3 separate regions of the Homo sapiens genome follow, and all the other regions are linked to region 3. The links come from fine-mapping of genetic effects on gene expression. A gene starts in region 3. Each other region holds a variant in brackets. All regions are shown on one strand. Distances are between the middles of the regions.

What was found. PIP is the estimated chance that this variant, and not a neighbour inherited with it, causes the effect.
Region 1: its variant is fine-mapped to the expression of ROPN1L in whole blood (TOPMed, PIP 0.97).
Region 2: its variant is fine-mapped to the expression of ROPN1L in whole blood (INTERVAL, PIP above 0.99).

What each region holds. Positions count from the first base shown.
Region 1 is chr5:10,605,983-10,608,658 of GRCh38, forward strand. All of the region lies in intron 1 of ANKRD33B (ankyrin repeat domain 33B), which reads left to right. Among named protein-coding and RNA genes, the nearest start is that of ANKRD33B, 43 kb to the left of the region's middle. RefSeq lists a silencer at 1,264-1,313 and an enhancer at 1,984-2,233. The variant G/A (reference allele first, on the strand shown) is at 1,425.
Region 2 is chr5:10,461,913-10,464,588 of GRCh38, forward strand. The region is part of intron 4 of ROPN1L (rhophilin associated tail protein 1 like); the gene reads left to right. LOC124900940 reads left to right here. Exons shown (of 1, transcript XM_047417967.1): 1 at 1-2,676. The coding sequence starts at 2,058. Among named protein-coding and RNA genes, the nearest start is that of MIR6131, 15 kb to the right of the region's middle. The variant A/G (reference allele first, on the strand shown) is at 1,311.
Region 3 is chr5:10,440,336-10,443,011 of GRCh38, forward strand. ROPN1L (rhophilin associated tail protein 1 like) reads left to right here and starts at 1,544. Exons shown (of 5, transcript NM_031916.5): 1 at 1,544-1,963. The coding sequence starts at 1,833. ROPN1L-AS1 (ROPN1L antisense RNA 1) reads right to left here and starts at 1,516. Exons shown (of 2, transcript NR_102746.1): 1 at 1,353-1,516; 2 at 400-1,038. MARCHF6 (membrane associated ring-CH-type finger 6) reads left to right here. Exons shown (of 26, transcript NM_005885.4): 26 at 1-53. RefSeq lists a silencer at 1,398-1,657.

The DNA of each region.
Region 1 (2,676 bases), 170 kb after region 3:
TGCCTTCAGGTCAACGGTTAACAGGCTTAGTTTTCTTTCATCACATAATGCTTGTATGATCACTGCGTGGAAACCACTCCCAGTGTTGGGAAAATTAGATGAGCCTCTGAGATAGGAATAGATTAGGTATATACATGAAGTTGGCAGAGGGAATACAGTTGAACAAAGTAGTGGTTTCATACATTACTAATCTAAAATCATAAATCCCAGCGAGAGGTTTGCAGTGATAATAAGATTTACGTTTTATGCAAAATTTAGTCTAAAGGGAAATTGTTTTGAATTACTGACAACCTTGAATTTATCAAATCCTGATTACAGGGCTACAAGGTGACCCCATGTTGGAAGGAATTATCTTGATGTATTTTACATATTTATTTATTTTATTAATAAAATGTCATTTCTTTATTTAAAACAGTTTATTAGGCATCTCTTTATTTGAAGCAGAAAAGCATAGATAAAAATACAAATATTGGCCTGGCACAGTAGCTCACGCCTGTAATCCCAGCACTTTGGGAGGCCAAGGTGGGCGGATCACAAGGTCAAGAGATCGAGACCATCCTGGCCAACATGGTGAAGCCCTGTCTCTACTAAAAATACAAAAATTAGCTGGGCGTGTTGGCGAGTGCCTGTAGTCCCAGCTACTCGGGAGGCTGAGGCAGGAGAATCACTTGAACCCACGAGGTGGAGGTTGCAGTGACCTGAGATCGTGCCACTGCACTCCAGCCTGGCGACAGAGCAAGACTCTGTCTTTTTTTTTTTTTTTTGAGGTGGAGTCTTGCTCTGTCGCCCAGGTTAGAGGGCAGTGGCGCAATCTCAGCTCGCTGCAAGCTCCGCCTCCCAGGTTCATGCCATTCTCCTGCCTCAGCCTCCTGAGTAGTTGCGATTACAGGTGTGCGTTACTACACCTGGCTCATTTTTTTGTATTTTTAATAGAGACAGGATTTCACCATGTTGGCCAGGCTGGTCTTGAACTCCTGACCTCAAGTGATCCACCCACCTCAGCCTCCCAAAGTGTTGGGGTTACAGGCATGAGCCACCACGCCCAGCCCATTTTATAAGTACATTTTGTGCCCAATCAAGTATCAAAGACATAATCTTAAAATAAAGGACAGTTCTTCCCAAGGGAAAAAGAAAGTAGGCAACCTGACACATGAATAGATGATGTATGCTACTGTTACACGCACACACACACACTCAGAATAGACTGTGATGCTGTGATAACAAACCACTTCAAGTCCCAGTGGCTTAAAATAACAAAGGTTTGCCTCTCGCTCATTCATGCTGTTGTGCGCCGGCTAGAGGGGGCAGGGCTCTGCTCTCTCTGCCCTCACTCCGGAGGCCCAGTCTGGGAGCAGTTGCATCTCTGAGCTTCAAGGGCAGTCAAGTCAAGAAAAGGGAAGGTGGCACATCGTCCACCGTCTCTC[G/A]AAACTTCCTCCTGGAAGTGACACCTGCTATTTCACTTACGTTTAATTACCCAAAGCAAACCAGATGGTCAAGTCAGAACTCAGAAAGGGTGGGGAAATGCAATTTTACCAAGAGGCAGGAAGAAATAGATAACGGAATAACGCCAGTGAGTACTGCAGCTGAATCCAGTGCAACTGAATTGTCCTGGTTCAAACAATTAAAAAAGACTTTGTGTGTGTACTTTCACCAGCTTCTTCACAGACCGTCGCCCATACTTGAGTGAATCTTCCTCCTGTGCATGCTACTGTATATGATAAGTGGAAGAGAATAGAGAGTGTTGTCAGGGACATTTTTGAGGAATACTGAAGTCTACTTGGGACAGTGAAACACACTGGACGATGAGCTTCCAGCTGCTTGTTTTCCTGCTGGACTGTCTGTGAGTTCATCTTCTTATTTAAAGCTCCTTGTTACTGAGTGCCTCCTAGCAGCAGTTTCCTTTAGCCCTCTCTAGGAGGAGCACAAATGCCTATTCCTGGCAGCCTGAGCATGTCGTCTTAGGCGTCCTCTCGTGACCTGTGGTCTGGTGTTTTGCACAATCTTCATCACCACTCCTTCTAGAAGGACTGAGAACTGAATTTGACTTTTAAAACGAAGCTTGGTAATCAAGAATAGCAACAGCAGGCTGAGTACGGGGGCTCACGCCTATATTCCTAGGACTTTGGGAGGCTGAGGCGGGTGGATCACTTGAGGTCAGGAGCTCGAGACCAGCCTGATCAACATGGTGAAACCCTGTCTCCACTAAAAAAATACAAAAAAAAAAAAAAAAATGGGCGTGGTGGTGCATGACTGTAGTCTCAGCTACTCAGGAGGCTGGGGCAGGAGAATCGCCTGAACCCATGAGGCGGACATTGCAGTGAGCCAAGATTGTGCCACTGCACTCCAGCCTAGGCAACAGAGCGAGACTCCATCTAAAAAAAAAAAAAAAAAAGAGCCGTGGTAGTTCTGAAGGGGAAGAGCAAGGAAGGTTTCTTCCCTGCAAAACACAAGGCTGCAGTAGCGAATCAGGATTGCCTTGGGGCTGAGGTAGATTGTTAGACCAATGGGAGCAACTCTCAGGTTCATTCCTGTGTTTATGGGGAGGTGGGATGAGCTTGAGCATGCTGTTACTACCAATGGGAAAAGAATGGATGTGTTCATATATTGTGCTAGGAAAACAGAAAAAGGTAAAATTAAACTTCTATAATAAAAACCATGGTGGATTCAAGACCTCAC
Region 2 (2,676 bases), 22 kb after region 3:
GAGGTACATCCCCTCCCTGCCCGCAAATGAGCTCTTGTTCACCTTCCTGTTGGTCTCGATGTGTTTAGCTTCCGGGAAACTTTCTAAGCCCTGTCCTTTTAGGGTTTCTTTTTCCTGGAAGCTTTGTGATTGATTAAATCATTGGCCAATAGTGATCACCTAAGCCATCAGCCCCTCTCCCCACCTCCAAGGTTGGGCTGGGCTGAAAGTCCCACCCCTCTAATCCTGCCTTGGGCTCTCCAGTGACCAGCCCCATCCTGAAGCTACCTGGGCCATCAGCCAATCACAAGCATAAAGAAAGAACTCACTTTGGAGATTCCACAGATTTTACTTGTATGCCAGGAGCGGGGGTTGAAGACCAAATATATATTTCACAATATCACATCCCTTGTCTGCAATAACTTTGTCCCAACGAATCCCGTGTTTGGCAGAAGGTTTAGGCACACCTGATAGTATTCAGGGTGTGTGTAAGTGGAGCCGCAGATCAAAGGCCATCAGCGAAAGCAAGCAGCACCTCAGAAGGGAGCCCGACCTCTCCCGTGGCTCCCACCCATGTGGGCTGAGGCTCAGGTTTTTTTAGACTTTAGAGGGAGAGAATGTATCTTGTCATTAAGACTCATTTATCCCAGATCTATCCTGATTCCTATGTACAGCATGTCAGGTGGTACTAAATTGTAGCATGTTAAAAAGTGAGATAGAGGCTGGGCACGGTGCCTCACGCCTGTAATCCCAGCACTTTGGGAGTCCGAGGCAGGTGGATCACTTGAGATCAGGAGTTCGAGACCAGCCTGGCCAATATGGCAAAACTCCATCTCTACTAAAAAAATAACCAGGTGTGGTGGTGGGTGCCTGTAATCCCAGCTACTCAGGAGGCTGAGGCAAGAGAATCTCTTGAGCCCTGGGGGGGCAGAGGTTACAGTGACCCGAGATTGTGCCATTCCACTTCAGCCTGAGCAACAAGATCGAGACTCCGTCTCAAATAATAACAACAATAATAATAATAATAATAATAATAACTTAAAAAGTGAGATAGAATTCATTTCTCCACAATGAAACGTAGACATGGATTACTGCTGGTGGACCTCCTGACAGTAGTGCCACGGATGCAGGATCATTTGCAGAAACTTGAGGATGTCATTGACATCAGCCACGCAATTCTCACTCTGATGAACTTGCTATATGACCCCGACACATTGCATGTTATGTTGTATTTGCACCAGGCTGCATGTGATGTAAGGCTGGTTCTGCTCTGAAGCATGACTTGGAGCTAACGTTGGAATATATTGTCCAGTGTTCTGATCACCTGTAAC[A/G]TTTTTAAACAAGATTAATGAATCCTCCCTTTAAAGACAAGATGCAGAGTAAAAAGGAACAAAGCTCTTGGGTCCTGCGGAAGTTCTCATTTGTTCATTCCCTAAACCATCATTGGGTGCTGACTCTGCACCCTGCACTACCTATGGGGAGGCAGAGAGAGCAGCCCAGGGCTGGTGGGGTGGGCAGAGGTGGTGGTGACAACCGCAGGGTCCGGGGAGCTGTGGTGCTGCAGAGTAAGCCTGGTTAACAGCAAGAAAGGGCCTTCTAGGTGCAAGGGCAGGAAAGGGCCCAGGTCCTCCAGGCTCCAGCCCCAAGGGAGATGGGGTCCCTGAGGTCTTCCCGGCACTTCCCCTTGGGACCACTGCCCCCCAAGTGCTGGTTATGGTTTGTCCCTGAGCCCCACACCTCTCATCTCGAATTGCCCACAGTACAGTTTATTGAGCACCTGCTCTGTGCCAGGCATTGGCGCAGGTGCCGGGGATGTAGTCAGTGAACAGGTCACGCCCTGACCCCTGGAGTTTTGCCCTGTGGAGCAGACAGACATCAGACAAGCAGATTTTAAGACAGTAGGTCATGTTCAGTGCCAAGAGGACAGTAAGCCAGGGATAGGGACCAATGGGGGCTGGTCCCAGGGCCGCCTTCTGGCACAGCACACACCCCTGCTCGCCTCAGCCTCCTGAGAAGCCCCCTGGCCTGTCATCACCACCCAGAGTCTTGTCCCCTCCTCCCACCCTTTCCAACCGGCCATGATGCCACCTAGGATGCAGGCCACAGCACCAGGAGCTGGCGCTCAAGTGATCCGCCAGCCTCCGCCTCCCTTCCTGTGCCAGTGGAGCCTGCGTTCTGTGCCCTGCCCCACCTGTCCCAGCCGTCCTCGTCTCCTTGTCCCTTCCACATCGTTTCCTCTCCTTCCTTCAAACTCACATCCCCTCTGCCCACCATGGGCTGAGCCTCTGGACTCCATGGTCCCTCTTTTTCCTCCTTCCTCTGTCATCCACTGTCACTCCAACCCTCCTGTCCTCGTGGAAGACCGCAGCTCCCAAGCCATCCCTTCTGTCCGCCTTATTCTTGACACCATCCTGGCTGGTGTCTGCAGTCACATGGACGACACAGTACTTTGTCCCCAGCTCTCCTCCTGGTGCCCACAGCCTCTGCTTCTGCACCGCCATCCGGGTCATGCTGGGCCCCTTCTCCTGCCCGATCCGCGCACCTCTTCTCTTCTTTTGTGCTCTCTGATGCGGCTACTCCGCCTGACAGAGCCACCTGGGACATGGGTGGTTCCATCTCATTCCAAATCCATGTCCCAAGCCTCCAAAGAACTGGGACCCTGTGCAGCAGCCACTTCTCCCACCACTTTCCTGAGAT
Region 3 (2,676 bases):
CCAGACATACCTTCACAGAATCATTTATCACAATAAAGGTGTCATACTATGCAGATTGTTTGACAAGATGCTTTTTTTCACTTTACACGGGCATCTTTTCATACCATTGTGTGGCCAGGCCATGATTTGTTTTCCAAAAGACATTTACCCAATTTATATGGTGAAGATTTTTGTCCATATTACTTTTTATAGTATTTCTGTAGGGTAAGTTCCCAGAAGTAATATTGCACGATCATCGAAAAATTTTAGTGTTACATTACTGCCCCATAAAGGTACTAATTAACATCCCTCTCAACAACATAGAAGATTCCTTTTTTTTTTTTTCTTTTTTTGGGTGGAGGGGGGCGGGGACAGAGTCTTACTCTGTCGCCCAGGCTGGAGTGCAGTGGTGCCATTTCTGCTCACGGCAACCTCCACCTCCCGGGCTCAAGCTATTCTCCTGCCTCAGCCTCCCAAGTAGCTGGGAATACAGGCACGCGCCACTACGCCCAGCCAATTTTTGTAGAGAAGGGGGTTTCACCATGTTAGCCAGGCTAGTCTCGAACTCCTGACCTTGTGATCAGTGCTGGGGTTACAGGCGTGACCCACCGCGCCCGGACGGATTTCTTGTTTTCATACTGTCATCAACTTTAAATACAAGTATTTTCAGTTTTTGCCAATGCTGTTAATTTAGAAATGTGTATGTATATATTGTCTGGTGGGTGTTTGGATGGAAACGATCAAAATCGGGCAACTTCCCCAGTTTCCTTGAAGGGAGTGCTTGCCATCGGCCCCTCTGGGAAGTAGCTCTCCGTAGTTCTCCATCTTCCTGTTTTGAGGAACGCAGGAGGAGGTGGATCTGGAGTCTCATCCATTCGGTGGCTGTTAACGGCAACTGCAGCAGCCAGCCAGGTCACCCCCTAAAGCAAAGTTAACCCCTTGCATGGTGCCTTGGTCAGCACCCACCAAATTCGAGGTTTCTCCTATCCTTCGACTCGAGGCTCTTTTGACAGATGTGATTTATTTCCTCCTAGAGCCAGTCACATTGGCTCAAGCAACCTATCGTAAGAAAACAAATACAATAGTGTTTTAGCTGGAAACTGCCCACTGTCTAAGCGGCTTTTTAAATTAAGAACTCAGGTTCACTACGGGATGGCTTAGGCCAGGGAACAGCATGTGCGAAGTTCGAAGCCCGAGAAGTTTGGAGGAGCGGCCCCAGGCGCAGGCGGGTCCCGCAGCGGGGCCCGTGCCGCCCAGGCGATCAGCCCCTTCACTTAACCCGCTTCCCTCCTAGCAGGCCCGAGTCCCCTAGCCTCAGCCTCACGCAGCCAGAGCAAGGGGAAGAGGGAGTCCTTCGTGAGTTCGCCGCTCACATTCGGCGGTGGGAAACCGATCCGAAGATGCTTTTGTAGGCGAAACGCTCAGCTCGCGCGGCTCTGAACCACCGGGGAGCAGCGGCTGCTGCTAGTCGGACTACGCCAGCACCTCCTTGTCCAGCCCGGGAGCAGCCCCGCCTCGCTCAGGGCCGCGTGCGCGTGCGCGGCTCCAGGGGCGGGGCCTGCTCGCGTCCCGGGTGCCTGGATACCGAGCGCGTCCGTAGTGGCGGCTGGCGCTAGGGAACTGCAGGGTCTAGGGTGTTGTCGGAGTGGCAGTTGGTCCGAATTTCTCCCGAAGCCCGCGGAGGAGCGGGTAAGAGCCCCGCGAATCCGGCCCCAACCTCGGGAACGGGATGGGAGGCGGCCCTGGCCGCAAGCCCCGCGCTGCTAGCGGGTCCACCGCGTCGTAGCCGACAGCCGCCCTTCTTCCTCGCAGCGCGCCGCGATTCACCAGCCTGGTCCCTTCTGCGGAGAGCGATGCCGCTTCCCGACACCATGTTCTGCGCTCAGCAGATCCACATTCCCCCGGAGCTGCCGGACATCCTGAAGCAATTCACCAAGGCTGCCATCCGCACCCAGCCGGCCGACGTGCTGCGGTGGTCCGCGGGGTAAGCGCCCTTGGCCCGGGGAGCTGTCCGGTCTACATGCCCAAGCCAGACGAGCCCAGAGAGCCCTCCTCCCGGACCAGGGGCCTTACGCGGCACTCAGCGTCCTTAAGAGTATCAGGCAAAACTTTCCCCTTAGCATTGGTGACATCTATACTTGAGTGTTTTATCTAGGAACCATTTCGATTTATCGACTATGAGACCCGAAATCATTGCAAAATGCTCACTTACCTACAACGTAATGGCAACTCAATTGTTTAAAAGTGTTTATGATGAAGATAGACTAAAACTTAACAAAGTAATTGCATTGGGCAAAAAAGTGTTTACATTATGTTAAAAAAATTACACGGTTGCAGTCACTTTGTGAAATGACTTTACAAAGAGGAATATTTTAGCTAAGTTCCTCATCTGCAGAGAGTCCTCTCAGAGCTATGTATACCCAGAGCTGGTTAAATTTATTAGAACCGGAACGACCGTGGTCATACTGAGGTCATCATCCCTAGAGTGCTCAGGGTAAACTGTCCAGCAAATGAAGCTTCACAGTTTATTTTTTGCCACAAACATTCCAACACTTGCCAGGAACAGACATTCATAATCTCAAAGTTACAAGTCAACAGATCTTAGAGGCATTAAAAGAAATCCTCTTGGTTTTACAGGAGAGCTCTTTGCCCCTTTTCAATAAACAGATGTAAAACAAAAACTCACTTTTATGATGA